Linked DNA regions of Homo sapiens. The protein of the gene in region 4 purifies or fractionates together with the protein of the main gene of each other region. This does not show direct contact. Each region holds a gene or a part of one and is shown on either strand. Other genes may lie near its edges. The genes, in order: TAF4, PFKFB3, CLSPN, LTN1, IVNS1ABP, ILKAP and NOP14.

Region 1 (4,531 bases), on a different chromosome or scaffold from region 4:
CAGGAAACAGTTGCTGTTTAGGGTGTTCACCTGTGGTGCCCGGCTCAGGCAGCGTGATGGGGGCGTTTACTTAATCAGGCCTTTGATAGCAATAAAGCAGTTAAATAAAGGGGGCTTTTGGCTGCAGGCCCTTCTGTGCCGAGTGCTGTGCACCTGGGCTTCCTGGACGCTTCTGCTTCCAGGTGGGCCTGCGGTTGCTATGGCATTGTGGTGTCAGCTGCAAACACGTACACAGCTGTTCTTTCCAATTCTTGCGTGGAATAATGAAGTAGAATAAGTGCTGTCAAGTTATGTTCGAAAATGGGGTGCTTAATATTTCCATGGTTGGACCATGAAAGTTTTGAGTGAAAACTTTTGATTTTTACATATCTCAAATGAACATTTGCACCAAAGATGTACAGCTTTCGAAAAACAAAGAGATACATGTTGTCCACCATGAGGCCCCTCTCCCATTTGAGAAAGTACCTGGTGTCCGCTGTTGGTCAGTCCGCGGTGGTCCCAGGCTCTTCTCCAGGCCTGCCTTCTGCCTGGAGCAGGCCATGCTGCAGTGTGCAGGATGATGTAGTGAAGTGCCCCCAGCTTCTCCCACCGTGGGTGTCATGTTGTGGAGCAGAAGTTGTCGTTGGGAACCGCGTGTGAGGGCAGGAGAAATTGTTTGTTGGGAGCCGCATGTGGGGACAGGAGAAGTTGTCTGTTGGGGACTGTGTTTGGGGACTGGAGAGGTTGGCCCCCCGAGCCCCATTGTCTGTGGCCTGGTGTGTAGACCTGTGTCCGTCCTTCCTGAGGTCTTGCTGAGGTTGGCCCCCGAGCCCCATTGTCTGTGGCCTGGTGTGTAGACCTGTGTCCGTCCTTCCTGAGGTCTTGCTGAGGTTGGCCCCCGAGCCCCATTGTCTGTGGCCTGGTGTGTAGACCTGTGTCCGTCCTTCCTGAGGTCTTGCTGAGGTTGGCCCCCGAGCCCCATTGTCTGTGGCCTGGTGTGTAGGCCTGTGTCCGTCCTTCCTGAGGTCTTGCTGAGGTTGGCCCCCCGAGCCCCATTGTCTGTGGCCTGGTGTGTAGGCCTGTGTCCGTCCTTCCTGAGGTCTTGCTGAGGTTGGCCCCCCGAGCCCCATTGTCTGTGGCCTGGTGTGTAGACCTGTGTCCGTCCTTCCTGAGGTCTTGCTGAGGTTGGCCCCCGAGCCCCATTGTCTGTGGCCTGGTGTGTAGACCTGTGTCCGTCCTTCCTGAGGTCTTGCTGAGGTTGGCCCCCGAGCCCCATTGTCTGTGGCCTGGTGTGTAGACCTGTGTCCGTCCTTCCTGAGGTCTTGCTGAGGTTGGCCCCCCGAGCCCCATTGTCTGTGGCCTGGTGTGTAGACCTGTGTCCGTCCTTCCTGAGGTCTTGCTGAGGTTGGCCCCCCGAGCCCCATTGTCTGTGGCCTGGTGTGTAGACCTGTGTCCGTCCTTCCTGAGGTCTTGCTGAGGTTGGCCCCCGAGCCCCATTGTCTGTGGCCTGGTGTGTAGGCCTGTGTCCGTCCTTCCTGAGGTCTTGCTGAGGTTGGCCCCCCGAGCCCCATTGTCTGTGGCCTGGTGTGTAGACCTGTGTCCGTCCTTCCTGAGGTCTTGCTGAGGTTGGCCCCCGAGCCCCATTGTCTGTGGCCTGGTGTGTAGACCTGTGTCCGTCCTTCCTGAGGTCTTGCTGAGGTTGGCCCCCGAGCCCCATTGTCTGTGGCCTGGTGTGTAGGCCTGTGTCCGTCCTTCCTGAGGTCTTGCTGAGGTTGGCCCCCCGAGCCCCATTGTCTGTGGCCTGGTGTGTAGACCTGTGTCCGTCCTTCCTGAGGTCTTGCTGAGGTTGGCCCCCGAGCCCCATTGTCTGTGGCCTGGTGTGTAGACCTGTGTCCGTCCTTCCTGAGGTCTTGCTGAGGTTGGCCCCCCGAGCCCCATTGTCTGTGGCCTGGTGTGTAGGCCTGTGTCCGTCCTTCCTGAGGTCTTGCTGAGGTTGGCCCCCCGAGCCCCATTGTCTGTGGCCTGGTGTGTAGGCCTGTGTCCGTCCTTCCTGAGGTCTTGCTGAGGTTGGCCCCCCGAGCCCCATTGTCTGTGGCCTGGTGTGTAGGCCTGTGTCCGTCCTTCCTGAGGTCTTGCTGGGCCCTTTGTGTCCCCCACTGGGCATCACTGGAAAGCGCCGATGTGAGGAAGGCACACGTGGCATCTTGATCTCAAAGTTGTGAGAGGAGCGTAGCCAGGTAGGGTGGTGTTGGGGTACATGGATCTTGGAGGGACCATTTCCGAATAGTCAGGAAACCCCAGAAACAGTTTTTTCTGTCTATCAAATTTGACATTAGGTTTTAGAATGAGGGCCCTGCAGTAAGAAGGTCTGTGGCTCCCAAGGGAATTGTTTCGGGGTTGGGGTCAGAGGTCTGAGTGGACAGTGCGTGGACAAGGCAGGACACTAGGAGCCAGGGAGCTGAACCCTTCTCTGGGCGCTGGGTGTGGCCCAAGCACACCTGGGGCAGAGGCTTTGTGGGTCAGCTGGTCCACTGGGGGCTGCAGACACTGTGGGCAGAGGTGCTGCCGGTGGCAAGGTGGGCACCTTGTTCCATGGGGTCGGGGGACACAGCCTTTCATTTTCTGACTTTGCAGTAAAGTGTGTGGGACAATGACCTGTGAAAGTTTTTAAAGGAAGTTCTGTGTCTTCTGCGGAGGAGCGTGGTCTCCGTGGTGTTCATAGGAGCCACGCACGGTGCTCAGAGCATGCCCAGAACGCACAGGCCTGCCTTGCTTTGGAGCTTTGCAGAAGGTTACGAATGTCAGTGTCAGAAGCATCATGACAGGAACAAGGGTGACACGGGAAGCAGGCTCGATTGGCTTTTTTATGTAACTGTAAGTGTAAAAAATTATTAGTTACTTCAACATGATTTTTTTGATGATAAAATTAGTTTTTTTTTCATTATAGGAAGTTTGGGAAGTAAACTGTAAAGAAGAAAATACAGTCACTTGTAACGTCACCTGGCCCAGACTGCTAAAATTTCGGGGTGTCTCACTTCAGCCTGTGTCTGCTGCATATCTGCTTCTGTGTTTTTCTGTAATTACAGTTCTCCTGTGACCCAAGTCTGTGCTTTGCCTTGTCCTGTGTCTGGTGCACTTTCCCTTGGCCCTCGGTGGTCTCAGGCTCCAGCATTTGGTAACGGCCCCTGTGCCAGGGTGCTGTGCTGATGGCGACAAGTGGCCCCCTGTAGGTGAATGCCTTCATGTCTAACTGTGTGTGTGTCTGGTGGGTTGAGCATTTTCAAGGCTTTGATACATATCACCTTCCACCAGATTACACTTTTAAAACCATTGCCAGAATACGACTTTTGGGAATGGATACCATTCTAAAGGAAGAAAATCGTGTCTAGTTTTAAGTTGCATTTCTTTGAGTGAAATTAGACCTCGTTCATGTGGATGTTGGCTATTTATTCTCGCCAACTGTGCCTATTTGTATAAGCGCGTTCTTGTTTTTTTCTTTTTTTTCGAGACAGAGTCTCACTCCATCACCCAGGCTGGAGTGCAGTGGCGCAATCTCAGCTTACTGCAACCTCCGCCTCCCGGGATCAGGTGATTCTCATGCCTCAGCCTCCCGAGCAGCTGGGAATACAGGCATGTACCACCACACCCAGCTAATTGTTGTATTTTTAGTAGTGACGGGGTTTCACCTTGTTGGCCAGGTTGGTCTCGAACTCCTGACCTCAAGTGCTCCGCCTGCCTCTGCCTCCCAGAGTGCTGGGATTACAGGTGTGAGCCACTGCGCCTGGCCTGCATGAGCACATTCCGAGGGTGTGTACTGGGCCACGGGGGAAGGCTGATGAGGGTACCAGGGTTCAGCTGTGGGGGGTCCCAGGCTGACAGCCCCTGCTTTCATGGTGTGTCCGTTGTGGGGGCCAGGCAGTTAACAGGCAAACAGATCAGCAGGAATGTCTGATTGTGATTAGCACCCTTGGGTGAGAGGGGACTGCTGGGCAGGGTAGTCAGGGAAGGCTTTCCCAGGAGGCTGAGGGATGAGAAAGGGGTCAGCCACATGCAGCTGGGACCTGTATCCAGGCCAAGGAAAGAGTAGATGCAGGGGTCCCCCGTGTAGATTGTAGGGCTGCCCTCTGATAGTGTGAATTGATATTGTAGGGCTGCCTGTACACAGTGTGAATTGATTGTATCACAGGGCTGCCCCCAAGTAGTGTGAATTGGTTATATTGCAGGGCTGCCTCCAGGCAGTGTGAATTGATTTTATTGCAGGGCTGCCCCCAGGCAGTGTGAGTTGATTGTATTGCAGGGCTGCCTGCACACAGTGTGAATTGATTATATCACAGGACTGCACAGTGTGAATTGATTGTCTTGCAGGACTGCCCGCAGGCAGTGTGAATCGATCGTATTGCAGGACTGCCCGCAGGCAGCATGAATCGATCGTCTTGCAGGACCGCCCGCAGGCAGCGTGAATCGATCGTCTTGCAGGACTGCCCGCAGGCAGCGTGAATCTATTGTCTTGCAGGACTGCCCGCAGGCAGCGTGAGTCTATTGTCTTGCAGGA
Region 2 (4,531 bases), on a different chromosome or scaffold from region 4:
AAAAATACAACCAAGTTAAGCACAATCATGCACCCGTGCACGTCCACCCCCTACCCACATATTCTGATGAGACTCAACATCCAGGGAGAGAGAGAAAACTGCGCGAGCCTGGAGCTGCACGGGAATGCGGACAGAGACATCCTCTCCAGCAGACGCCAGCCAAAGTGGGTGCAACGGGCGGGGAGGGCTTGAATGGTTCAGCATGAAAATCCCCCACTTGATTGTACCATACCTGAAGCACAGCCTCAGTTCCTACTCAATTCCAACCAGGAAAAAAACATGCATTCTTTAAAAGCTCTTCCCAAAAAACAAACAGCAACGGCTCTTCTCTCCACGCCCAGTTTCAGGTGTCTAAATCTCCCACCCTCACCCAGGACCTGTCCCTTGAGCTGGGAGGAGGATCTCAGGGCTCACAGCAGAAGGCAGGAAAGAAAAGTGACCTTTGGCACAAGCTTTGAGACATCCTGAAAAGGGTCATTTGGACAAACTCTGCTGCCGAGTTTCCAAATGGTTTCATCTGGGCACGAGACCCCCCGTCCCACCTACCCCAGGGTTTGAGGCAATGAGGAGAAACCAACAGGCTGAGACGACAGGTCCCATGCTTTCCATCACCACAAAAGTGTCATAGACGCCATGAAGGGAAGGCCAGGACAAAGTCCACTCTTCCGACCTTCCCAAGGCACCGGCAGAGTGCCAGGCACAAGGCAGATGCTCCAAGACAGTGTGCAGGCAGCTCTTGAAGAAGTGGCTGCGAGTGAGGCCTTGCTTGGGCCACTGTCCCCACCTGGGAAGAGCAGGGACGGTAATGCAAGTGCTGGGGAAGGATGCCAGGTGTTCCGCTCCCCACCTTCAGAGGTTCCAAGCCCCCCAGGGCAAGACACCCCAACATCTACGTTCCTGAAGAGAAGGTGGGACTCTCAGGTCACACTTCTGCCATCAAAAAAGTGCAAAAGCCAGCAGCTCCAGGAAAGTGTTTCTCAGTTCCCCCCAAGTCCAGGTGGGAGGAGAGAGGGGCCCTGGAGCTCCCTGGGAGCAGGAGGCCCCAGTTCTCATATTTCGGCAAAATACTTCCCTCTCCCCGTGCAGCCAGCCTGCCCTTGCACATCTTTGGAGGCAGGCCACAGGCCTGGAAGGTGTGTGGACCTGCAGGAGAGCCAGGGTGCGGACCACCCAGCCAACTTGCGTCTCAGCTCAGGGACTTCCTGCAGAAGAGGCCTCAACCCAACACCTGTCCAAGTTCGTTCCCATGAGGCGTCTTCCCAGGTCAAGATGCACCAAACAGTCACGTGGAGGTTTTACACATTCCTTAACTTTCAGCAACTAGGAGCCTGCCTCCTTTAATTTTAGGATTCTGCCACCAGTGTGGTCTTCCCAGCTCCAAACGTGCCGGGAGATCACAGAAACGAAACAAAACAGCACAGTGTCCCCAGCGGCCTCCTGTCAGGACCAGCACTCATCACCCTCCCAAGGCTTTGTGAAGGTCTCCGAGGCTGGACATTCCTAGGAAACCCAGAGAGTGGAGGTGGGGGCCCCACGGCTAAAGGCAGGGCGCCAGGGACCCACGTGGCTTTCTGGTGTCCAGCGGCCGAGGGGACACAGACGGTGCCAAGCATGGTTCTCTTCGGCCAAGGCTCCCCCGCTGCTCCACCCCACCCTCTCCGGAAGAAGTCCTCAGGATACGTTTTGCCTCGGGCGGAGGGCAGGACACAAGCTAAGCTGCAGAAATGGAAATGGAATGGAACCGACACGTCTGCCTCAGTGTTTCCTGGAGGAGTCAGCGCTGCTCCGGGAGCCTTTCATGTTCTGTTTTCAGGAGAAAAGAGAGGTGGGGAGGGAGTTAGGATTTGTAGCTGGCTGAATTCTAAAGCAGAAGACGCGAGCCATGCAACGGAGAATTCTTCCCTCCCTCCATCCCAGACAAAGAACATGATCCAAGAAAGGTGCTGCCAACCTCACAGGCGGGAGAGAGCCCAGGTGGGCCTCAGAACATGACGCAAGATAACCCCAGAGTCTCAGAGAAGGGGCTGGGCACCAGGCCTGGAGCCCGCCTGGTGGGGGCCGTGTGGCTCCTGGAGGACCGTGAGCTGCGCGGCGCTGGGCACCAGTAACTACAGGAGCCTCATGCTCACGACCCCATAGAAATCCCACAAACCACAGCCAGGCAGAGGATGAGCCCGGGGCCTCCAAGGACACACAGGGCCCCTCCTCTCGACTCAGCTCAAAACAGAGCCACACTCCCAGCTCCTGCATCCAGATTCTGGGAACAGAGCTTGACAGGCAGAACACAGGTGATACATGGAATGGCTGGACGTGGTGGGGAGGCCCAGGTGGGGAGCCAGGCAGAGGGGTGTTGTTAAAGCCCTGCCCCACTTCTGATCACAGTGGCCCTCGCAGGGAGTTCCACCCCTAAGGCACTGGCCAGTACCAAACCCCCCCGCCACCCACCCCCCGCAAAAAAACATGCTCCAAAATCAGCGAGGAACACAACTGACTGCAGCCACTGCACAGCGGGCCTCCTTCCGTGACCTGCTTCACCTACGCCTCAAAAAACAAGAAAACACACAATGTTTAAAACTATTCTCTCCAGTCCTGAGTGTCTCCACCTGGACTGCTCTAAAGAGGGTGGGAGAGAGCCCAGGCACACAGGGCCACCGTGGCCCATGCCCACCCCACACAGAACTGGGGGTCCAAGGCTGGAGCCATCCACAGGGAGGAAAGTCACGGGGCTGGGCAGCATCAGAGCTATCGCCCAGGCGTGGGCCAGACTCAGGAACCCAGGTGATGGGTGCCCACCGGGAGGTGATGGGTGCCCGCCGAGAGGTGATGGGTGCCCGCCAGGAGGTGATGGGTGCCCACCGGGAGGTGATGAGTGCCCACCAGGAGGTGATAGGTGCCTGCCAGGGGATGACGGCTGCCTGCGGGGGTTGATGGGTGCCCGCCGAAGGATGATGGAAGTGATGGGTGCCCACTGGGAGGGGGCAATTCTCTTCAGAGAGCCCTGGGTCCTCATATCTAGGGAGAGCCCCAGCCGGGCTGTGGGATCACAGAGCAGGGCTGACATTTCCCTCCGCATCTGCTGGCTCCAACCTGTCCTCAACACCACCAGCCCACAGCTTCCGGCACCCACAGGTGATGGCGATGCAACAATAACAGTGGAGAGCCTGCAAGACCGGGTGATGTCCACGTCCTTCACCCAGGGGCCCCAGCTCAGGACACGTGGGGGGTGAGAGACAGACTAGAAAGGACCTCACGACAATGGTGTTGCACTTAACAACCTCGGCATGGAGACAGATGAGCCCCGCATTGCACGATGGCCAGTCTGCACACAGACCCAGATGCCGTGACGCGGTGCGGGACAGAGGGACATGCACCCAGGCATTTACCTTCCACAGTTAGTAAGGAGAAAACTTTGAGAAAATGTGACAGACAGTTCGTCTTTCAAGCAGAGTGGGGGAGAGGAAGAAACAGGTTGGAAAAGGAAAAAAAAAAAGAAAATCTTTAGTAGGATTTTCTAGTGTGCATTTGAAATTTTAAAAATGAAGGTTGCATCACAAATGCCAGGTGATCTCTCGATCCCAAGCAGCCGGCACAGCCCCCAGGAAGGCACCCCAGAGCACCAGGTCCGGACAGTTGTTCGTCCCCATCTTACTGGGAAACCAAGATCACAGGGGTGAAGACTCTAGGCTGGGCGTGGTGGCTCACATCTGTAATCCCAGCACTTTGGGAGGCCAAGGCGGGTGGATCACCTGAGGTCAGGAGTTTGAGACGAGCCTGGCCAACATGGTGAAACCCCATCTCTACTAAAAATACAAACATTAGCCGGGCATGGTGGCGGGCGCCTGTAATCCCAGCTACTCGGGAGGTTGAGGCAGGAGAATCGCTTGAACCCGGGAGAAGGAGGTTGCAGTGAGCCAAGATCGCGCCACTGCACTCCAGCCTGGGCAACAAGAGCAGAATTCCATCTCAAAAAAAAAAAAAGACTTCAGGCCATGGCCTTGAGACCCCAGGGATTTCCCCTCCCCAAGTCTGGGTGTTCCTGCTGCCCCAGAGAAGAAATCCCTCAGGTTACAGGAGGGTATCCAAAGGCTGACCCAATGCCAGCAAGCCCAGAAGTCTCCACAGGCCCAGGGCACCAAGTTCCTCCCTGATAACAACAGCAGCCGTCATCCCCCACGCACTTCCTAGGGGCCAGATATTGTGCTAAGTGCTGTATCTATAGTCTCATTATGACAACTTTATGAAGTTATTATCTCCATATTACAGATGAGGAAGCTGAGGTCCTAGAATTGCTTTAACTTGCCCAGAGTGCCAAGGATAGAGGCCAGGAGGAGTAGAACCAAGATGCAGGCCTGGCTTGGTCTGACTTTCATCATAAATTCTGGTCACAGAGCCCAGGTGGACTCCTAGAATCAGATGTGGCTACAATCCTAGATGTGGGGTCACGCACCCAGGATGGACGGGACAATGGGACTCCAGAGTGAAATTCCAACCTGAGTCAGGTGTGATGGGTCCATCGGATGTATTTTTGCTG
Region 3 (4,531 bases), on a different chromosome or scaffold from region 4:
AGCTGGATCACTTGAGGTCAGGAGATCGAGACCAGCCTGGCCAACATGGTGACTCCCTGTCTCCACTAAAAATACAAAAATTAGCCAGGTGTGGTGGCATGCACCTGTAGTCCCAGCTACTTGGGAGGCTGAGACAGGAGAATCACTTGAACCCGGGAGGCAGAGGTTGCCGTGAGCCGAGATTGCGCCACTGCACTCCAGACTGGGCAACAAAGTGAGACTATCTCAAAAAAAAAAAAAGAAATCTTTCTTTCACCGAGCCCTGGTCATCATGGTACGTATCTCATGGGTGTAAAGGAGTCATTATGGTACTGATTTTCACTGTTTAATCTGTAATGTCACACTTTTCCCTACTCTTCCTCTTCCAACCACTTCTATCAATCACAAAGAGATATTAACCCAGAAAGCTGCTACAATAAAATGTCAAATGTCTAATGGAGGAAGTGAAACCTAACCCAAGGCCAGGTGCAGTGACTCATGCATGTGACCAGCACTTTGTGGGGCCGAGGTGGATGGATCATTTGAGGTCAGGAGTTCAAGACCAGCCTGGCCAACATGGTGAAACCCCGTCTCTACTAAAAATACAAAAATTAGCTGGGCGTATTGGCACATGCCTGTAATCCCAGCTACTCGGGAGGCTGAAGGAGGAGAATCGCTTGAACCTGGGAGGCAGAGATTGTGGTGAGCCGAGATCACGCCACTGCACTCCAAGCTGGGCAACAGAGTGAGACTCCCATCTTAAAAAAAAAAAAAAAAAGGAAACCTCACCCAAGTATTCCATGAGTTGTTGATGTTGTAAATACTGCAGAATTGAAATCAGTGGCCAATTCAGGGAATAATACTAGGAAAAGAGATGTCCAGAGCTGTGCAGTAGAAATCACTGGAATTTCTGTCTGCAATCTTATTGCATTGATTATGAAAGAAGGAAGGATCATTGGCTGGAGTGTCAATTCCAACTTTCAGTGCTAGAAACTTCTCAAAGCAGTCTCAATGTAGATTTTGGCACCTTTGATGGTGTTAGCTCTCCAAATATTTGAAGATGCTTCGCGTCAATCCTGAAGTGCTATCATCTGTTTTGAGGTGCTTAGGTGAAGGAGAAGTCATGAAAGATGGACCCCTTTTCTTTACCTAGAGAGCAGAGAGGGAGTCAGGGCCAGCTAAAGACCTTCATACAAGTATTTACCTTCAATTAGCTCTCAAGCAACTCATAAATTGTGGATGATTAACAACAGAAAAAAAGAAAGAAAGATAAACTTTCTCGGCAAGTTTAAAAGTTGATTACCGACTGGGGTAGCAATTCTCTTGTACCTTATCGGGGAGTGCAAGATTTCAACATTGCAGCATAGAGGTTAAGCCAGAATTTTTGTTTTTAAATTTAAATAAATGAATAAATTCTGGTTTGGGAAGCCACCATATTAGTTCTCAAATTCCATACCTGAGACTTAGACGATTCCTTTGCCGCCTCAGCCTTGACAGGAGAAAGTGTATGAAAGACAAAGTTTCTTGAATTTCGAGGAGCACTGGGGTTATGGTCAGAGAGAGCAGCCAGTTTCTGAAGCACAGCTTTGGGCTGGTTTAGCAGTGAGCCTGTCTTCACCTGAGGAAAGAAGAGTCATCTGGTATCAAATCCCAAGTGCCAACTAAAGAATGAAAAGTCCTTCCCTCCCTGCTTCCCCCTAGATATTGAGGGTACATATGCCTACCCTATTCAAATAGAAAAGAAATAGCAGACTCCTTTGACATTAACTTTTTCCCTGCAGCCACCTCCTTCCTCTAATGACAGAGACTATTCTCTAAGCTGGACCTGGGCCTTTATAACCTGTAGACTATGATGTCAGATTAACAAGGTTCCCAACCAACCTGTTGAGCACTTCCTGGTCTGATGGCTTCAAAAGGATTTCTGAGCAAAGACTTTGATTCCTGAATAACCATAGGGCGACTGGCTGGAAAGAAAAGACAGAGAGGCCTATTCTGGGAAAAGCTGATTAGAATTACTTTTAAATCTAAACAAGCTAAGAAATCTTGTAACTAAATCAATATGCTAAAGCCATGGGAACTCTGTTCTATATAATGGTGACTTTCAAACTATAATAATTGGCTCCAAGAAGAGACACAACTAAGTTGAACAGTAATCATTTAAGAAAAACAGAAGTGGTCAGTGTAGGGAATAGTGAAGAGCTTCATTTCTGGAGTTAAATATTCCTGGATTCAAATCCTACCTCTAACACTTAGGTATACAATCCTGGGCAACTAGAGAAAGCCAGAATTAACTACTCTGAGCCTTAGAACATAAAGTAAAACCAGCCACATATACTCATGAATACAGTCTCTACTGCCCAATAGTCTAAGATCTAAGTACACTGTCTCCCACCACCTCTGTGAAGCCTCTTTAAGACAGTATTAGACACAAGCTTATGATTAAGCTGCAACAGCTCCTGAAGGTTAGAGTCACCTCCAAAGCTCTACCACTAACAATCCAGGGGGCTAGACCCTAAGGAGAAACAAGAGCTCACCATTCTTCTGCAGTGCTTTGGCTGTAACTTTCTTGGCCAGTATCATAAACTGACTGTCCTCCCCAATTTCTTCTTCTTCTTCAGCTGTAATTTTCCCCTGCTGTGCCTGAAAAAAAAAAAAAATATATATATATATATATATATATATACAGCATTAAAAGTCTATAACCTTCCTAAATAGTTAGCATGGCCTGGATTGTGAAACTAGAGTTCCTGGGGTATTTGTTTTCCTTTTTGCAGCCTTTGCTGCTTTAGACAAAAAAAAATTAATCTTAGACAAACATGAAGAGAACTGTCTATGGTATAGCCTTCTCAAAACACAAAAGATAGCTCAAGGATTAAAAGAGATAGCAATATGTTGCCTAAGATTTTGAAACTATCATGACAAGCTAAGATTTTGAAACTATCATGACAAGCTAAGGGACAGTCTCATAAACTAGGGTCAGAGTAGGTGAACTCCTACCATGTCCCGAAGCCACTGCTCTCGTTCAATTCGCTCCTTCCTCCACCTGGCTTCTGACTCATCAAGCTGTTCTTCAGTCTGATCATCATCAGAGTCTCTGTGGAACAAGTCCATCTGGGAAGCATCATCTAAACAAAGAGTGAAGGTAATCAGCATTCGGCAGTCCTCACAGGAGAGGGTGCTTGGACAGACAAAAAATAAACCCTTATCATTTACTATATAATGATGTAAACTTTTCCCATCCATTAACAGAAAACAGTTACAACTAGGTCTTCACATAGCCTGTTATAGTTTTGCTTGCCATTTGCCATCTGAAACTCGACAAATATGCATTGTAACTGTTTGCTTTTTTTTTTTTTTTTTTGAGATGGAGTCTCGCTCTGTCGCCCAGGCTGGAGTGCAATGGCATGATCTCTGCTCACTGCAACCTCCGTCTCCCGGGTTCACGCAATTCTCCTGCCTCAGCCTCCTGAGTAGCTGGGATTACAGGCGCGTGCCATCACAGCCTGCTAATTTTTGAACTTTTAGTAGGGACGGGGTTTCACCATGTTGTTCAGGCTGGTCCTGAACTCCTGACCTTGTGATCCACCTGCCTCTGCCTCCCAAAGTGTTGGGATTACAGGCGTGAGCCACCATGCTCAGCCCGTAACTGATTGCTTTTAAAGACAACAACCAAGATACCTATGTTTTTCCATCGAAACTTCCTCATTCGCCCAGGACCATCGCTGTGCAGATCCCCATCAGCAAGGTACCTCTCTTGGTATAAACGTAGCTGTCGCTTATCATCATCCAACATAGTTTTCCTGCAACAGGAGAAATAAGGTGTTCAAAACAAGGACCATTCTGGCTGGTTACAGGGCTTGTCTTAAGATGTACCCTATTACTCAGAAGGGCTTATTGGGATACTGACATGTGTATTTTCTTGATTTGACTCTGCAGTTCCTCATCAGAAGGAAGTACTTCATCAATTACGTCCTCTTCATATTCATCAATTTCTTCCCCATCATACTCATCTTCGCTTCCCACATCACTTCCTGACACCTCTGCCTCATCCTCCAGGTATTTCCTCAACCTCCTAGAAAGCAATTTTGAGGATTAGAAAATGCAACAATGAATATACTCACAGAATATGGAAGCAAAGAAAAGCAGAACAGAGTCACTTCTAATAATAATAAACATAATACATTTGATAATATTTAAATTTTTTTGTAATAGTCTCCACTTATGATGGTTTGACTTAATGATTTTTCAACTTTACGATGACATGAATGTGATACGCACTTAGTATGCTTCTCGATTTACGATGGAGTTATATCTGGATAATATGAAAGTGCATTTTCAACTTATGATGGATTGATCAGGATATAGTCCCATTGTAAGATGTGGAGCATCTGTATTTAAAAGTTGATCACTTAATATGTCTTGTGTGCTAATAACTGTGCTTTACAGGCATTAACATATTATCATAGGAATGGGTACTATTATTCTCTTCATTTTACAGTTGAGGGAATTGAGCCTCAGAAAGATTACATTTACCCAAGGTCACATAGCTAGA
Region 4 (4,531 bases):
CCACTTTTTAAAAATCCCCATAAACATCATCTTACCTAAGAGCAGAATCAAATAGCAAAACTGAAAGGTTTGAATTTTACCAATTTTCCTTTTCCTATCAATTCCCAAGGTTAGCTGCTTTAGATACTTCTTCCCCACGCACCTATAAATACTCCTGACCACTTGTTCCTCCATTTCTCTTTCACACAGCAATGAAGTGAATGTGAATCTGGGAGATAAATTAGGCTCTGCTTTCCTCTCCCCTCTTTCTGTAAGCCTGCTTGCCCACAAAGAACACCATACATTGTGCTCTGCTCCATCACAGAGGAAGGTATGAGGTTTTCAAATATACGGAAGTCTGTTTCCTCCTGGGGTGCAGTGCAAGGGAGTCCACTGTTCCAGTAACTGCTTTATCAGCAATAACAATAACTAACACTTATTGAGCTTTTGCATGTGCCAGGTATTGCTTTGAGCACATTTTAGGCATTAACTAAATCAATCCTCAGAACTCCATGAAGTACAAGTTAATTCCTGCTTTATAGATTATGAAATGAAGGCACAGAAACTTGCCCAAGGTCACACACCTAGTTGCTAGCTGATGGCAGAGTGGGACTAGAACCAATGGTGTGACCCAGAGCCCATGTCTTATAGACAGTATGATATACTATCTATAATGCTGACATTTTGATTTTCATTTGCCTAACTCCTCTCTAATACATGGGTTTGGAACTGGAGACAGTTCAATGCCAACAGCTGTAATGAACTGTAACATAGCCAACTAAAGGGAAAATAAAATGGAAGAAATAACCCAATGTTCAATGATTAGTTATCCATCCATGACAAAGCCAAGAACAAATTTATTTTCTAAAGCCTATGAAGAGCCAAACTAGTTGTCTCAAAATCCATTTCCTAAAGCTCTTAGCGTCCAAACTCATGACACTTCACTCTTGTAACGTTTATAACTTGGCATTTTAAATCAACCAATGATTCTTATGCTACAGATGGGTTAGAAAACTCCATTTGAGCATATGATTAAAGCTACAAACCCTCTCTCTAGAAAAACACGCTTGGTACACCTGAGAAATGAAGAATGGAAGAACCTAAATGAGGTACTACAATCAAGTTATGTGTTGGGGAGTGCTGGGTGAAGAGATTAGATAGGGAAGCAGGGACCAGATCATGCAGAGCCTTGTATGTCAAGACAAGAAATTTGAACTTAAAAGTGTAATGGAGAGCCACAGGAAGGATGGCTAATTGAAAGGAGGAAGGAAAGCAGGGGGAGAGGGTCAGATGGAAATGTTTAAGTAGGGTTATACACAGGGTGTTGTGGAAACACAGGAGTACTAAATAAGGGAATAAATGCAAGCATAGATTTTTTAAAAAATTATCAATTCCCTCCTCACTTCTACTTCATCTACTTTTATTTCTCAATATAATTCTAACAACTTTGTTGTCTGGTTTTTCTAGTCCATATATTGGGAATAGAAAATGAAGGGGGAAGAAATGAGACACTACTAGAAACAGACACACTGAAAGCCACAAACAGGTATGGCTGGTAACTTTTTATGAGAAAGTTATGGCAAAAGTGTTAGCCCAGTGTGGAGAAACTTTATCTGAAAATGGGAGTATAAATTTGTTTGGCCTTTTGAAGGGCCATTTATCATTATAAAAAATTTTAATGTTCTTATTCTTTGGCCCAACATATGCTTACTAGAAGTTCTAGTAAGTATCACTCCCACAAGGGTATGAAGAGATCTACTCAAGAATGTTTACTGAAATAGCATTTGTTATGATAAAAATTGGAAAAAAATCCAAATGTATATTAATCTAAAAAGTTAAATAAACTACAGTACATCCATGTATAGTAATACCAGAGAGCCAATAAAAAGAAAAAGACACTAAGTTAGATCTGTATATATATATATATTGATATGGAAACACGAGAGAAAATAATTTTAGATTTATTTTTAGATATATTACTTGTTTAGATTACATAAAACATCTACTTTTTAAAAATATAATAAAGACTTCAAAATTAAAATGGAAAATTTAAATACTGTAGAAAGATCCAATCCAAAATGTTAATCTTGTTAAAGATCCAAAATGGTTATTTAACTAAACAGAATTTTAAAAAGGCAACCTTCAGTTGGAAATACTCTACTTACTCATTCCCCTACAATCCCAAGTAAAAGAGCTGTCATTATGCTTATAACCCTTAAATACTTAAAAAAAAAAAATAGATTCAGAATGATTCCAGAACTTACACTTGTAATTTCATCCTTACAAAATGCTATGGCTTCAGGTTGCTTGCTTGGAGGAAAAGCCGCTTCAAATGCATCTTTTGCTGCAAACGCAGCTGGTGTGTAAGTATCACACTGAGCCATTAGCCAATATCCCATTAAACTTTTTAAGTAGGGAGCCAACTGTTTCTTTACTTTAAGGATAAGTTTTTCAAAAGCTTGTTGTGTGGCTTCTCGGACGCGACGGTCATGATCCTATTAAAAATATAAATGTGATTTAAAATAGCTCTAGCCCATAAAAACAATCACAGACATTTCCGGATATGCTATAATGACCCATTACCAAGAATTCACCTATGTATTAAGCTAAACTGAAATCATTTTTTTTAAATCAATAATTTGGAGGTTTTTAAATCAGAAACTATGTAAAATAATTTATTAATTTTTCTTTCTCCCCTTCTCCCAATGAGATAGGATTGTATTCAAGACAGATTCAAAGTTGGGCCTTGAGGCCGAGCCTGGTGGCTCGTGCCTATAATCTCAGTACTTTCGGTGGCCGAGGCAGGCGGATTATTGGCGGTCAGGAGTTCAAGACCAGCCTGGCCAACATGGTGAAACCCCGTCTCTACTAAAAATACAAAAAATTAGCGGGGCATGGTGGCACACACCTGTAATCCCAGTTACTCAGGAGGCTAAGGCAGGAGAATCACTTGAACCCAGGAGACAAGGTTGCAGTGAACAGAGATCGCGCCACTGCACTCCAGCCTGGGTGACAGAATGAGACTCCGTCTCAATTAAAAAAAAAAAAAAAAAAGTTGGGTCTTCAATAATTAAGCAACTCACTCTCATTCTTCTGCAGCAAATATACAGGGAATAAAATCACTATCAAAATTTATTAAAACTGGAAAGCACCTGGGTAATTCTCCAGTAACAACCTAATTTCTGAAAACAGACTTCCTAAATGTTCTTCATAACCCAACACAATCCAATCTTTTTTTTTTTTTTTTTTAAAGACATTGTCTTGTTCTATTGTCCAGGCTGGAGTGCAGTGGTGCAATCTTGGCTCACTGCAACCTCCGCCCCACCGGGTTCAAGCGATTTTCCTGCCTCAGCCTCCCAAGTAGCTGGGATTACAGGCATCCATCACCACACCCGGCTAATTTTTGTATTTTTAGTAGAGACAGGGTTTCACCATGTTGGCCAGGCTGGTCTCAAACTCCTGACCTCAAGTGATCTGCCCACCTCAGCCTCCCAAAGTGCTGGGATTACAGGCATGAGCCACCATACCAGGCCCCAATCTCTTTTTTTATTTCCACGCTCTTCTCAAGTGTTAACAATTCAATCTGCATAACAATGCTGACATAACATTTAATAACCCTCACCAAAAATCAACATTATAAATTTGAGAGTCTCCATGACTCCAACCAAAAAATATACAACAGAAATAAACTAGCAAAGTTTTAATACTTACAAGTGAAATTTTGCAAAAAATTCTTGGCCAATATGGAAGAACTCCTTTCACAGTTTCTGTGTCTCTCTCTGTACACATGGTTCCAAATTCCTGCATAGCCTAAAAGTAAGTTATTAACATCATTAGGATTAACAACCATAATAACTGGCTATAGATTATTCTGTTCTGGAAGCTTTGTCTATTTTATGTAATAGGAGAATACACTATTTCTCTTTATGCCATATGAGACTAGTTTGAAGAGCTCTTTCACAGGCTACTACGGTAGAAACTCTTCAGTTGTTTTTTTAAAAATAAAACATCTACAAACAAAAAAACCTCATTTAAAGTTACAAGGTCAAAGTTACATTCCCTAATGGGAAAAACTATACAGCCAAAATTCCAAAGCACTTTAAAAAAGTTCACTGTAACAAACTAATTTACGACCTAGAAAATAAATATCAACTAAGTTTAAGACTCTGTGTCAGAAAAAAGTACAATTATAAAAGAACTTAGCAATAAATTGTTCATTTTTCTTTACATAAAACATGCTAATGACATTTTATTTTAACAAAGGGATTTTCTTGATAATTTTTATGAAAACAAGAAAACTTGCTTTTAATTTTGTGGTGACATCTTTCTTTGAAAGTTTCCGCAGCACCATTCGGAAATCAGAATCTACAAGACTGTCAATTTCTTCAGCTCCTTGAATAGCAGGAACATAGCCTAGGTCACTCTGAGATGTTCCAAAACCAATAAATCCAGGCACTGTTCCCTGTTCTTTGGCAAGGAGTTCTGCAGCTCGGCCACTGTTTGAAGGCTGATAAGAAAATTACGGAGAAAAAAGTCAGAGTCCAGGAAGGGT
Region 5 (3,209 bases), on a different chromosome or scaffold from region 4:
CATTCATTTGACTCAAGGTTATAGACTTCCACCGTATTCAGAAATTCATTGCCATCGAATCCTCCCACTGCATAAATGGTGTTCCCTACAGTTGCAATCCCAGCATTGCTCCTTGGTGAAGTCATATTTCCCATCATCTTCCATTCATTTCTAGTTGGATCATACATTTCCACACAACTGATGGCATGAGAACCATCAAAGCCACCACATACAAACAGTTTTCCTAAAAGAGAAATGAGATGGGGTAAATCCAGAGATTAAAGTGTAATAAGGTAAAACTCCCCTAAATCTGTCTTTTGCTTAAAAATCAGTGGTTTTAAAAATAGAAATGCCTGTTCATTTTGTCAAAAAGAATTTATTAAATGCCTAATATGACAAATACTCTCTAAGAGCTGGGAATCAAATCAATAAAAAAACCATTCCCACGTGGAACTTAGGCAACTTAAAAGGGGGAGGGAGAGGAAGCAGTAGCAGCATCTAAATAAGTACAATTTTCACCAACTCTGTGGTAGTTACTATTATTATTTCAGAGAAGAAGAAAAGCAGGAAGAAGCTGGACAATTATCCTACAGATGCAGCTACTAAGTAGCAAACCAGAATAGTTCTGTGCACTGGACTTTATATCAGCCCAATGTACAGAATTAAGACTCAGAAGAGATTATAGGAAAGCAGAAAAATATCTTAGGGCTTTCCAACTGTATAAAATGATTTTGGGGCCAGATGCGGTGGCTCATGCCTATAATCCCAATACTATGGGAGCCTGAGGTGGGAGGACTGCATGAGCCCAGGGGTTCGAGACCAGCCTGGGCAACACAGTGAGACCATGTCTCAATTAAAAAAATAAAATGATTGTGGTACAGAAATTTCTTCTGGAAACAGAGTTATGATTATTTTCAAATAGATAAAATGTTAGCAATAAATACTCCGTAGCTTAGAAAAAATTTTATTACTGATTCTCAAATTCATTATTTTTTCATTTGACCATCACTTAACCAGCTTGCATTCTATGTATCTGTAAAGCACGCTGACAATGCTCTAGGCCAACAGGCTGTGTCTACACTTAAGCCTTCACCAGTTGAGCCATAAGCCTGCTAAGGTTCAGCCTGGTACCAAAAACAATGCTAACTTTTAAATTATGATTATATAATTAGACATTAAAAGTCAATAAAATGGAGGTGGAAAGAAAGCTATGTCTACATTTAAAAAGTTTAATACTTTGGAAACTTGTTAAAATAGTCTAAAGGTTGTATTTCCAATTAGGTATGGAGTAGACAGTTGGAAAAGACTAGGGATTTGCCTTTGTTTTGCAGATCAGATTCTTTAAATTCTGGCTGTAAAGAAGGGGAAACTCAAAATTCAAGATGATGCATTAAGGATATGTTTTATAGAAGAAAATGACTTGGAAATTCACTCAGTGCACCCATCAAAAGACTGGTGAATTAAGTTATATATCAAGTATTATAAGTCTTTGATTAGAAAATATATTTCTAAAGGACAAATCACCCTAATCTCCATTGCATCAAAAGAGATGACTGCTTCTGAATTCTTAACTGTACAACTATAGTCATTGGCCTTTTCTCTCAGAGTTTTAGAACAAAGTCTTGCCACTATCTACTCTTCACCTCTCCAAATCCCAACACTCACCATTAAGAACAGCCACTCCAGCTCCTCGCCTAGCCACATTCATGGGTGCAATTAAAGTCCAGGTATTATTTTCAGGATTGTATCGTTCTACTGTGTTCAGACAATTCCAAGATTCTGCACCTCCGATTATGTACAAATAACCACCAAGCTCACAGACTGCAGACTGGTGTCTCCCTACAAGAAAAGTCAAGTCAAGATTATTGCTACATCTCCCAGACTCTAAGTGTATACTACACATACTGTTGATTTGAAGGTCTTTAAAAAAAAAAAGGAAAAAAAATCAACTTACGAATGTTAAGAGGGGCACAGCTTGTCCACAACTTTGTTACAGGATCAAATACATCACAATTTTTCAGTCCTTTTTGACCATATGGATCAGAGCCACCAACGATGTATAACTTTCCATTCAGAGCACACACTCCTATGTAAGTATAAAATAAAGTTACATATTGATAATTTAATTATCATATTTAAATACTGGATATCTCAGGAGAAAACTATTATTACCTGCATTACAACGGTTAGTTCTCAATTCTGGAACAGGAATCCAGTCATCTATGTTTGAATCATACATCTCTCCACAACTCAGGTCATCTGAGTGGCCATTTGATCCACCTACCACATAGAGCTGGCCCTATGCCAAAAGTGAGAGATGAGAATTTCTAACATCCTGAAGTTACGAGGAAAAAGCTAAATAGGGGTTGCTCCTGCAACATAATGCGCTTACCATGAGTACAGCCATTTGAAATCGGGCTCTTGGTGTTCTCATGGGAGCAAGAAAGGACCAGTGATCTGTATGTGGATTATAGCATTCGACTGTTCGAAGACATTCCTCTCTGTTATAGCCACCTGGTAAAAAATAAAACCATAAAGATTTATGTTTAAAATATTAAACTGGACCACGGTTTCCAGTCCTGTAAGTTTAAGAAATCTGCACAATGAGAAAAAGTATTAAAACTTTTTAAGGATGCCTTAGTTGATCTTTTAACTAAGTGCTTGTAATAGCTGAAAAATCGCATTATCAGTACAAATAAACTGCTTAGTCTTGGCTTGAATATTAGAAAAATTTAGCCATGACATAATTTTTTTAAAAATTAGATACAGACATTGAACTGAAGGTTAGCCATATTCAATAGTATTGTTATTTCCCTATCTTATTGGATTGCCGTGAAAGATGGCATATTAAACCCTCTCTTTGAAAGTTTGCATGTCACAAAAATGCCCATCTACATGCTTAGCCAGTTGAATGCTTCTGTTCTTACCTGCAGCTATGAGTTTGCCATTCATCTCTGCTGTTCCCAGACCAGATCGTGCGTACTGCATAGGAGACATGGGCTTTTCGATTAGCTCATCTTGTTGCATCTCAAAGCTTAAACTCTTACTTAGTTTTGGAGTACTTGTTGGTGAGCTCTGTGGGCTGTTTCTCCCATGAAGAAAAATGACACAGAATATACCATCCAGCACAGCCAGGCACAAGTAAGTGTTATCTGTAAGCACAAGAGTTCCATGTTTAAGATGTAATTATTACTTTTGGTTTGTGTATATGATCCTGAATTGGACTCCAG
Region 6 (4,531 bases), on a different chromosome or scaffold from region 4:
AGCCACCCACTTAGATGACAATACGTTTTATGGGGAAAAGACTTTAGCACGTACTTGTTGAATAAGATTAAAGTGATGGTGTCTGGTTGAAACCTTTCTTCTGGGGTTGCTGCAGAGTGTTCTGCTGCAGTTTAACTTCTGGGTAAGGGAACAGCAACTCAGCTAGAGGCTGTTTGTTCTCTGGGGAACTTACGCCCTATGATAGACTTGTGCTTTAAAACCCAGATCCCGTCTTTTTTGTTTCTTTTTTCCTCCCGTGGTTTGTGTGTGTGATGCTGTGGATCAGAATGTAATCAGTATGCAAGTAGCCTAAATCTTCTTTTATTTCCTTTCTCTGACCTTAGACAGTAATGAATGAAAAGCTTTAACCCCTGCCTATCAAAGTTACTGTGATTTCAGAGTAACTTGAGAGCTGTAGCTAGAAAATACCAGATGAGGTGCCATTCATCACCCGAGCCCGGTCCCTGGCTGAGGGAGAAAGCCCAGGGTGTTGTTCCCCCTGGTGACAGTCGTGGGGATGCTGTAAAGCCTAGAGGGTGCTGCTGCGGAAAGCTGGATGCAGACCCTGCCTCCTCTGCATCAGGACCATGTGTTCCGTTCCGTTGCCGCTTTTTCACCCGGCCTCCTTGCTCCCTAGGCAGTCACAGGAATCAAGTGACTGTCCACACTTAAGCAGCATCTTTAGACCCCTCCCCACGATGCTTCTGGGGGGATGATTCATCAAATACTAAGTGCTAGGGGTATGGCAGAGACTATAACAGATGACAGCCCCTGCCTGGTGGAGTTTACATTCTGGTGGCCCTTTAGTAGACTGGCCTTAGCCCACATGTGTTTAGACCACATGACTTCAGAAATAGCAAGAGGAAAATTGGCAAAAAAACAAAGACAGGAGTCAGACCCAAATTTGAATCCTGGCTCTGCTCTGTGACTTTATTGAGTTACTTATTCTTCGTGCCTCAGTGTCTTCCTGTAAAACAGACACAATGAACCTGGCAGGGGCGAGAACACCTGGAGGCACTGGTGTGGACGGCCTACCTGGCACTCGGCCAGCATGCACAACGCTTGCCCTCCTCTTTGCCTTCCATAGGCTCATGGACATGTCTCTGGCCTTCTAGACTCCAGGCCAAAAGGGACCTTGATACTTGTTGAGTGCTTCCTTTCATGTCACAAATGTGACAACAGCCAGAGTGAGCACTTGTCTGTAGTTATTCAGCAGAGTTTGTACCAGAGTTGATATCAAAACCAGGGGCGACTCTCTCCCTAACTGTTGTGTCTTTGACACTTCTTTGCTGCTTGATTCTCTGAACTTACGTTTATCAGCAGGAGGCTGAATGTGAAACTCCATTGTTAACTGTTTTCTTCAAACTCCATTGTTAACTGTTTTTTTCAACTGGTACCTTTAGATGCTGCGCCCACTGAATTTCATGACTATTACAATCTCCATCTTCCCAGGCAATCTTGTGTCGTTATAATGAGGAGAGTCAAAAACATGCAGCCTTAAGCCTCAGCAAAGAGCATAATCCAACTCAGTATGAAGAGCGGATGAGGATACAGAAGGCTGGAGGAAACGTCAGGTAACCAAGGGACTGAGAGGAGCTCATGGGAAGGAGGGCTGTTAGCTGTAGAAGGGTCCCGAGACCTTCAAGGAGTAGAACTTCCCCTGTTACGTAGTCTTCAGTGTGACGAGGCTCTGTCTGAGATCTAACACTGGTGACATAGGTGGATGACAGTTGTAGATTTCACATGTGTCCACGTGGAAGGAAACTTGCCTCCCTACATTTGCAAAAGGACAAATTCATATTTACCATTCACAGTGTTTTCTCTGTGCCTAGGAAGTTTCTTAAATACTGTCACTTTTCGTGGTGGCGGGCGCCTGTAGTCCCAGCTACTCGGGAGGCTGAGGCAGGAGAATGGCGTGAACCTGGGAGGCGGAGCTTGCAGTGAGCCAAGATCGCACCACTGCACTCCAGCCTGGGCAACAGAGCGAGACTCCATCTCAAAAAAAAAAAAAAACCAAAAAAAAAACCTGTCACTTTTCACATTGAATAAGTTACAGTTTTAGGTGAATTCTCCAGAGAGAAAATCTGAAGTAGTTAAGACGGGTTAAGTAATGTCTTTGGACTTCTTGGGAACAACTGGCACAGAGGACCATGTCTTACTTGGCTCTGTCTTTTGCAGTTTCATTTCACTCTCTCTTTAAATCTTTGAAAACCATATGTCTGCTCTGGTTTTATTATCTGCTTCTATCCAAGGCAGCTAAAGGAGGGCATAAGTCTTTTCTTTAGAATTCCACTTCAAGGACATTGCATTATGAATTAGACCAGGAGTATTTTCTGGTTTGTTGTACAGTTTGACTATTAAAATTTTATTTTCTGCCAGAGATAAGAGAGATGTCATCTCTTAGTATAAGACTGCACTTACCTATCCTTTGAAGTGTAGTTTCTCTTCTGTTGTTCATTTGGGGAAGCCTTTTTTATTGCTCCAGGCTGAATCTAGTCAGTGGTACAGGGAGGTTTCTGGAGAGTAGTTGGAACCCTTAGCGTTTGTTCAAAAAGCTCTTGGATTAGTAAGAAGCAGTTTCATTCACGGTCGCTGCAGTTTACATGAGCAGTGATGGGATTATAGGCCTGGTTTCAGGCCTCAAGCAGTGCTGTTGGCCCAGTTTTTGCCACCGTAACTACTGTCCTGGTAACTACTGTGGACAGTCATGCCTGAGAATGTGACTCTAACATGAGCGTAAGCATCACCTCTTCTCCCCTTTCTTGTAAGTTTTACATTCATTCTGCTTTTGCCTGAACTCCTTGAAAATAATTGGATACTGACAGTCCGATGGCTGAAAGTAAGGCCAGTTGTGTTGCAGTTGCTTCCTATATCCCAGTCCTTACCTGATTCAGAGAAGTGTTTACATGCCTTAGAGAAATCATTTGACAGTGTGGGTTTTGGGTGACTCCTTCATCTCAGAGAAGGGCTGAGGCTAAGAGACCAGCAGCGTGGGTCGCTGCCCCTGAGCAGCAGAGCCCTGTCGTGGTCTGTTCTCCTGCCTGAGGCCAGGGCTGGCTGCCCCACTCTCAGCTTTTATCATTAAATTTTTCAGACATACAGAAGAAACTTGACAATAGTAAAACATTTCCAAATCTACTAGCAGTGAACATTGTGTCATGTTTAGTCTGTATAGATGTGTGTCAGGCTGAGCTGTTTAAAAGTTGCAGATATGATGACATAACAGCCTAAATACTTAAGCATGCATCTCCTGAAGATAAGGACGTTCTTGACATAATTAGTGAGAATTTTCACACCTAAGACAATAATATTTCCTTAGGTTAAGTTATCTAATACCCTGTCTATATTTTTATTTCCCGAGTTATCCCCAAAGTATCTTTGTTTCAAACCAGGGTCTAGTCAGCATCCATGTCTGCCGTGGACTTGGCATTTCTTTTTCTTTTTCTTTTTCTTTCTTTCTTTTTTTTTTTTGAGAGAGAGAATCTTGATCTGTTGCCTGGAGTGCAGTGGCACGATCACAGCTCACCGCAGCCTTGACCTCTGAGGTTGAAGCGATCCTCCAGCCTCAGCCTCCCAAGTAGCTGGGACCACAGGCATGTGCCACTGTGCCTGGCTATTTTTTTATTTTTTGGTAGAGACAGGGTCTCTGTCTGTGTTTTCCAGGCTGAGCTAAGTGATCCTTCTGCCTTGGCCTCCCAGAGTGCAGGGAATACAGGTGTGAGCCACTGCACCCTGCCGAGACTCATTTCTTACCAGGCTTTGAACCATGTTATAGGCCAGCAGTTGTACAGAGTCACCAATATTCTGAACCTGCGTATTTTTTTACGGTGTTATTTCTGTATATTTCCTATAAACTGGAAGTTAGGTGTAAGACCTTCTTTAGATTCAGATGAGATGTTTTTAGCAATGTTTTATGGGGGATGCTGTATACTCAGTAGTCCTTCACTTCAGTAGGCACATAATGTGACCCTTAATTAAGTTGCCAAATCCCAGCACTTGGCTCCGGTGGTGACAGCCGGATGCTCCTGTTGCCTTGCGTCATCAGCAGGTAATCTGGGGAGGTTCACTGGTACCTTGTGAATATTCTGTTTCCTGTCAGCCTTTCACCTAATGGTCTTAGCATCCCTAAATCATTATTTCATCAGGGATGTCAAAGATGATTTCCATATTCTGTGATTCTTTTCACATGTATTAGCGGGCATTCTGTAAAGAAACTTCTTATCATCAATAAGAGAACATCATAGATTCTTCTAAAAAAGCAGGGTCAATGTTTCATTCTGTCCTTTATCCATTTGAAAGGAAGATAGTCACCTATAGTTGTGGAAATCAGTGTTTTCCTTTCACTCCTCTGCTTCTTTCCCTCCATCCTTCCTTTGTGAATCACTGTGTGCCAACTGACTATTCATTGTGTTGTAGTCACAGTCATGGGGTTTTCTGCTGCTCACTTGATTTCAGATATGGCCAGTGGAAACTCCTGCTGGCTGGTTCCTGTGTCCTTTTCATATGTGTGTATTAATGTTTAAGAGCCAAA
Region 7 (4,531 bases), on a different chromosome or scaffold from region 4:
CTGTTCCTCCTTACTACTGCCTTGTTTTCTTCCAAACTCGAGGCTACAACCAGAAAGCCACTGTTAAGGAAGCAAGAGTCTGTCCCCACCTCTCAGCCAGAGCCTGCTTGGGAGTGTGGCTTCACTCCGTAGTCATCTGCTCAACTGCAGAACTGGCAGACGCCCCCCGTCAGCTCCCACTGAGCCCACAGCCCTGGCCTCCCAGGGAGATGCTGCCAGCACCCACACTTTGACCAGCCGGGGTGTGAAAAGCTTCAGTGGGACAGGCTTGCTCTTCTCACAGGTCAGCGGCCGGCAGAGCTGCTTCTGGCTTTCCATTTCGGTCAGTGTGCTCTGACACAGCTCCTGAAAAACACGAAATCCCCGACTCTGCGATGACTCACCTGCTGCGTGCCCTGAGCTCCACGCACGGGTTCTGTGGTGTCAAGGCAGCGTGAGGACAGTGCTGCGAGCTCCCTGCAGCAGGATGGTGCCCTTGCTGTGCGCCTACCGGTGGGCGGGGGGGTAAGCCAAGGCTGTGGCTGCTCAAGTCCTGGCACAGCCGGAACGAAGTAAAGCCACTGTCTTCTTGAAGAGGGAGGGCCGTGGGCTGGCCCCTGAGAGCACTCTCTGAAAGGAGGGGACTTGGGGAGTTGGAGGTCACCATAGCCTGTGCTCCTCACAGCCAGAAACGTCAACAGAACCCCTCTTTCCCAGACAAACTTGGCACGAAAGGCCGTGAGCCACTTGCTTCGTGAGAAGGCTCACAGGAGAACCCCTTTCTGCCGCGGGGGGCCGTGTGCATGCTAGAGCCCAGTGTGCAAACTGACGCTGGGTGCTAGGCGGGGCAGGGTTTCCACCAGTCTTGGCAGTTTGACCTTATTTTCAAGCCAACAGAACCAGATGGTTAAGACCCATTTTCACCAAGACCTTGGCTTCCAGAAGAGTTGGCTGGTGGCTTCTGAGGAATCTCCCGAAAGGTAGTTCACTGAGGTTGGTCCTACCCGCTTTCTCCTGCACAGGTGTGTCCTGGAACCCTGGCTGCACCCACAGATACAGCCACTCCTGGGCCCATGTGGATGTAACCTTCGAGTGCCGGAATGCCTCGTCTCCATGGAGACCAAACTCAAGGGCCTGACTGGCCCAGTCTACCGAGACCATGAGACCTGCTGTGCCCCTCGGCCAGGCCAACCCAAATTCTTTTAAATAAAAGGCACAAGCCACAGCCACACCAGCAGGAAGTGGATACAGGATAAGGGGCAGGGCTCACATCTCATCCTCATCAGCCTTTGACCAGGCGACGGAGTCTGTGATAGCTAGCTTATCTGCTCTATGCTCCAGGGACCTGGCCGGAACGAGCCGAGTTGCTGTCCTCATGGAACTCTCATCCTAGTGGGGCAGAGACAAGGACGGTGTAACGTGCCCGGGGGTCAGCACCACAGACAAAACGCAGGGAGCACGGCACAGTGTGGGCCAGGGAAGGCCTGGCTTCCCAAGGGTGTGGGCGCGAGCAGCATGGCTGTGGGGAGTTCTAGGTGCAGAGAACTACTCCAGAGACGAAGCCAGGCCTGCGAGGAGGCCGGAGCGCATGAGGGGAAGGCACGAGGCAAGGCTGCCAGGGCTGTGCTGGTGGTGCGGGACGGTCCTGTGGGGGTAGCTGCGGAGATGGCACTGATGCCTTCGGCTCCAGCAGCATCCTGGGCTGGTGCGGGCCAATAAGGGGCAGGGTTGGGGCAGGATGAAAGGCACAAGCCACAGCCATGTCAAGCAGGAAGTGGATGCAGGGTACAGCCTGTCAGGGTCAGGGTGAAAGGCAGGGAGGCGGGTAGGCCATAGGTGAATTTGGAGCAGCCTGTAGAGGACAGGATGTGCCATCAAAGACTTGTTCTTGGGTCCAGCTGAGACTGTCCCTTGGGGCTTCCTGTCACCTTGTGCAGGATAGTGAGACCATCCTTGGAAAACCCATCGGGACTGCAGAGCGCGGCTCAGAGCTGACTGTCCAGGCCTGGCAGGGGCTGACCCCTGGGCGCTGGTGCACCCTCCGTGCGGCCTCTTGGAGGAAGCACACAAGGCGACAGTTCCCAGCTGCCGCCTGAGATGCAGCATCTGCTTTACTCCAGCCCAGCACTGCTCACCGTCACTGCCCACTCTTATGATTTTACTTCCCTTCATATTTGTGATTTTGCAAAGATGGTGTTGACTTACAGCTGCAGCATCAAATGACTGACTGCCACCAGCTTGGCCCCAGCTCAGGGACATGTCTGAGCCCAGGCAGAGCACCCTAGTGGCCGGGAAGCCTCACCTGGAGCTCCTGCGGGTGGCTGCAGTCCGCCAGGTGATCCGTGAGGAGGGCTTGGAGAGGCCCCATGATGGCGTGGAAGGATGGCAGGGACCCGTACATGAGCACGCAGCGCTTCAGCAGGGCCAGGCCCACAGCCAGGCAGGACAGTCTGTGAGGGCAGGAGGCAAGAGGAGGTCCAACTTGTTCTGTTTGTCACTGACAAAACCAATAACGTGGCAAAAATGAACTTCCCCACTTCCACTAGGCTGAAAACTCCAGTGTGGCCACCTTGGCCGGCCAGGGTTGGGCCCATGCAACCACGGGCAAGGCAGGCTCAGGGTCAGGCCTAACGCAGGAGGGGAGGCTGTGGGAACCGCAGCGCCAGCTGGGATGGGGCGGCTCCATTTTTGGTTCCAAATTATGATTTGTGAAATCAAGCAAATGTATTTTGAAAATGAAAAGAAAAAGGGACAGCAAGCCAACATGCCTCAGAAAGGCTTTCGGCCTCCATCAAACCAAACGGCCGGGCGGCAAGTTCACTAAGAACAGCACATCAGAAAGCACGAGTGGCTTCTCCTGCCTCTGGGGACGCTGTAGGGCACAGGCCCCAAAGCGGGGTCCCCTCACATACCGGATGTGATTGGCCTCTGTCGAAGTTGGGGCCCTCAGTCTACTCGCCCAGCGGAGGGAGAGGCTGCTCTGCTGCCACGTGGCCACATCCTCTCTAGCAGACACCACGAGCAGTTCCGAGTTCTTCCCAAGCGCTCTGAAAGGGTGCACCAGAGTGGAACCTGAATTCCAAGTGCGACAGGACAGAGATGGCCTGAACATTACTGGGCTCCCAGCAGGCTCTGCGGCACCGAGCCTGTGGAAGTTCACCCTCTAACAGACGCACACCGATTTTTATGTTTCTGGGTTGTGCCAGACACTGAGGGTTTCAGCGTGGGCAGGGACACCTCAGGGGAGGGGAAAAGCTTTGGCAGGGGGCGCGGTGAGAGCCAAGTGCCTGATCCTGCCTGAGAGGCCTGCTGGCCACAGACTTCCTGGGGCCTACTAGGCACACATGGGGCTGATGAGGCGCTCAGGCCACATCCGGGAACAGACTGAAGTCCCTGCCCCTGTCGGGGAGACAGGCAGTGCACAGCACCCAGAGGAGCAAATGGACCAGACAGAACACGAGAAAGGAAAGTGGAGGGGCAGGAGGGAGACAGGAGAGTCAGTCGGGGGTGACGGTGGAGGGCGGGAGAGGCCTGAGGGGCAGACGTCAGCAAAGGCCTGTAGGACGCAGGAGTCAATTCACTCGCCACGGAGAAGGGCAATCCAGGCCGAGGGTGTGGCTACACGGGGAGGGGTGGAGAGTGGGTACAGTGGGGCAGAGGTGCCGGGCCAAGCGAGAGGGGAAGGCGTGGGTCAGGCCCCGCCCCACACTTCCCCAAAGCCGAGATGCCCACCCCTTCCTTGACTCCACCTGTGCCCAGCCTGTTCCGTCACAGCCCTTCACACGTGGGACTGCAGCTATCTACAGGTGGCTCTCCCGGAGGCAGGGAGCATGTGGGCGGCCGCGCCCCTCTGGCGCCCAGCACCGAGCCTGACAGACAGGAGCCTTGGGAGGCAGGTGGTGGCAGAATGGGAGCACTGAACCGGAAGAGTGGGCCAGACCCCTCTTGGAAGGGACTCTGCTGGTGGTGTGAATGATGCCACAGCACCTGCTCCTCAGGTCAGTCCCCTGGACATGCAGGCGCTTAGCACTGCACGGTGAGCTGGAAATAGAGGACAGGGGTCTGAGCCTTGAGGTCCAACCTCTGGTCAGGCTGGGAGAGGCGTCCACAGACATGGAAGAGCTCAGGAAGAGGCTGTGCAGCTCCTCACCCCCCAGAGGGAAGCAGCAAGTGCTGAGGAAGCATCCAGGAGCAGGGCTGGCATCAGGGGAAGGGGGAGGAGCACAGGGGCTGGGGTGAGGGCCCAGGAGGGCAGCCAGTGTGCAGACTGCTCCTCATCCCAACACTGCTCTTGCCGCCCTCGCTCCTGAATTCAGAGCGTTAAGAGAAGCGACACAGCAGCGCGGCCTGTGTGAGCTGCACGAGAACTTTCACACTGCCTTGTCGTCACGTGAGAAAAAGTAAAAAGTTAAGATTGATTTTAACAATAGACCTTATCTAACCCCAAATACCAAAATATTATGATTTTAACACATAATACAAAAAATTAAGATATTTTAAGTATTTCTGACACTAAGTCTTCGCCACTTGGGCATATGTCACAGGTAGGGTA

The links.
Region 1: the proteins of LTN1 (region 4) and TAF4 purify together in Homo sapiens (affinity purification with mass spectrometry, with the first as the bait; one large-scale study listed by BioGRID). This does not show direct contact.
Region 2: the proteins of LTN1 (region 4) and PFKFB3 purify together in Homo sapiens (affinity purification with mass spectrometry, with the first as the bait; one large-scale study listed by BioGRID). This does not show direct contact.
Region 3: the proteins of LTN1 (region 4) and CLSPN purify together in Homo sapiens (affinity purification with mass spectrometry; one large-scale study listed by BioGRID and IntAct). This does not show direct contact.
Region 5: the proteins of LTN1 (region 4) and IVNS1ABP purify together in Homo sapiens (affinity purification with mass spectrometry, with the first as the bait; one large-scale study listed by BioGRID). This does not show direct contact.
Region 6: the proteins of LTN1 (region 4) and ILKAP purify together in Homo sapiens (affinity purification with mass spectrometry; one large-scale study listed by BioGRID and IntAct). This does not show direct contact.
Region 7: the proteins of LTN1 (region 4) and NOP14 purify together in Homo sapiens (affinity purification with mass spectrometry, with the first as the bait; one large-scale study listed by BioGRID). This does not show direct contact.

The regions. Positions count from the first base shown.
Region 1 is NC_000020.11:62,055,190-62,059,720, reverse strand, and holds part of TAF4 (transcription initiation factor TFIID subunit 4), read left to right. Parts: intron 1-4,531. UniProt on the Homo sapiens protein: The TFIID basal transcription factor complex plays a major role in the initiation of RNA polymerase II (Pol II)-dependent transcription.
Region 2 is NC_000010.11:6,230,167-6,234,697, reverse strand, and holds part of PFKFB3 (6-phosphofructo-2-kinase/fructose-2,6-bisphosphatase 3), read right to left. Parts: intron 1,804-4,531; coding exon 1,756-1,803; 3' UTR 1-1,755. UniProt on the Homo sapiens protein: Catalyzes both the synthesis and degradation of fructose 2,6-bisphosphate.
Region 3 is NC_000001.11:35,735,479-35,740,009, forward strand, and holds part of CLSPN (claspin), read right to left. Parts: intron 4,052-4,531; coding exon 3,887-4,051; intron 3,780-3,886; coding exon 3,658-3,779; intron 3,105-3,657; coding exon 2,977-3,104; intron 2,620-2,976; coding exon 2,514-2,619; intron 1,944-2,513; coding exon 1,861-1,943; intron 1,598-1,860; coding exon 1,436-1,597; intron 1,129-1,435; coding exon 1,018-1,128; 3' UTR 1-1,017.
Region 4 is NC_000021.9:28,982,449-28,986,979, forward strand, and holds part of LTN1 (E3 ubiquitin-protein ligase listerin), read right to left. Parts: intron 4,487-4,531; coding exon 4,283-4,486; intron 3,790-4,282; coding exon 3,691-3,789; intron 2,475-3,690; coding exon 2,244-2,474; intron 1-2,243.
Region 5 is NC_000001.11:185,298,066-185,301,274, forward strand, and holds part of IVNS1ABP (influenza virus NS1A-binding protein), read right to left. Parts: intron 3,132-3,209; coding exon 2,907-3,131; intron 2,494-2,906; coding exon 2,372-2,493; intron 2,279-2,371; coding exon 2,152-2,278; intron 2,066-2,151; coding exon 1,934-2,065; intron 1,819-1,933; coding exon 1,645-1,818; intron 224-1,644; coding exon 1-223. UniProt on the Homo sapiens protein: Involved in many cell functions, including pre-mRNA splicing, the aryl hydrocarbon receptor (AHR) pathway, F-actin organization and protein ubiquitination.
Region 6 is NC_000002.12:238,179,108-238,183,638, reverse strand, and holds part of ILKAP (integrin-linked kinase-associated serine/threonine phosphatase 2C), read left to right. Parts: intron 1-1,452; coding exon 1,453-1,574; intron 1,575-4,531. UniProt on the Homo sapiens protein: Protein phosphatase that may play a role in regulation of cell cycle progression via dephosphorylation of its substrates whose appropriate phosphorylation states might be crucial for cell proliferation.
Region 7 is NC_000004.12:2,939,301-2,943,831, forward strand, and holds part of NOP14 (nucleolar protein 14), read right to left. Parts: intron 3,052-4,531; coding exon 2,892-3,051; intron 2,430-2,891; coding exon 2,282-2,429; intron 346-2,281; coding exon 227-345; intron 44-226; coding exon 1-43. UniProt on the Homo sapiens protein: Involved in nucleolar processing of pre-18S ribosomal RNA. Has a role in the nuclear export of 40S pre-ribosomal subunit to the cytoplasm.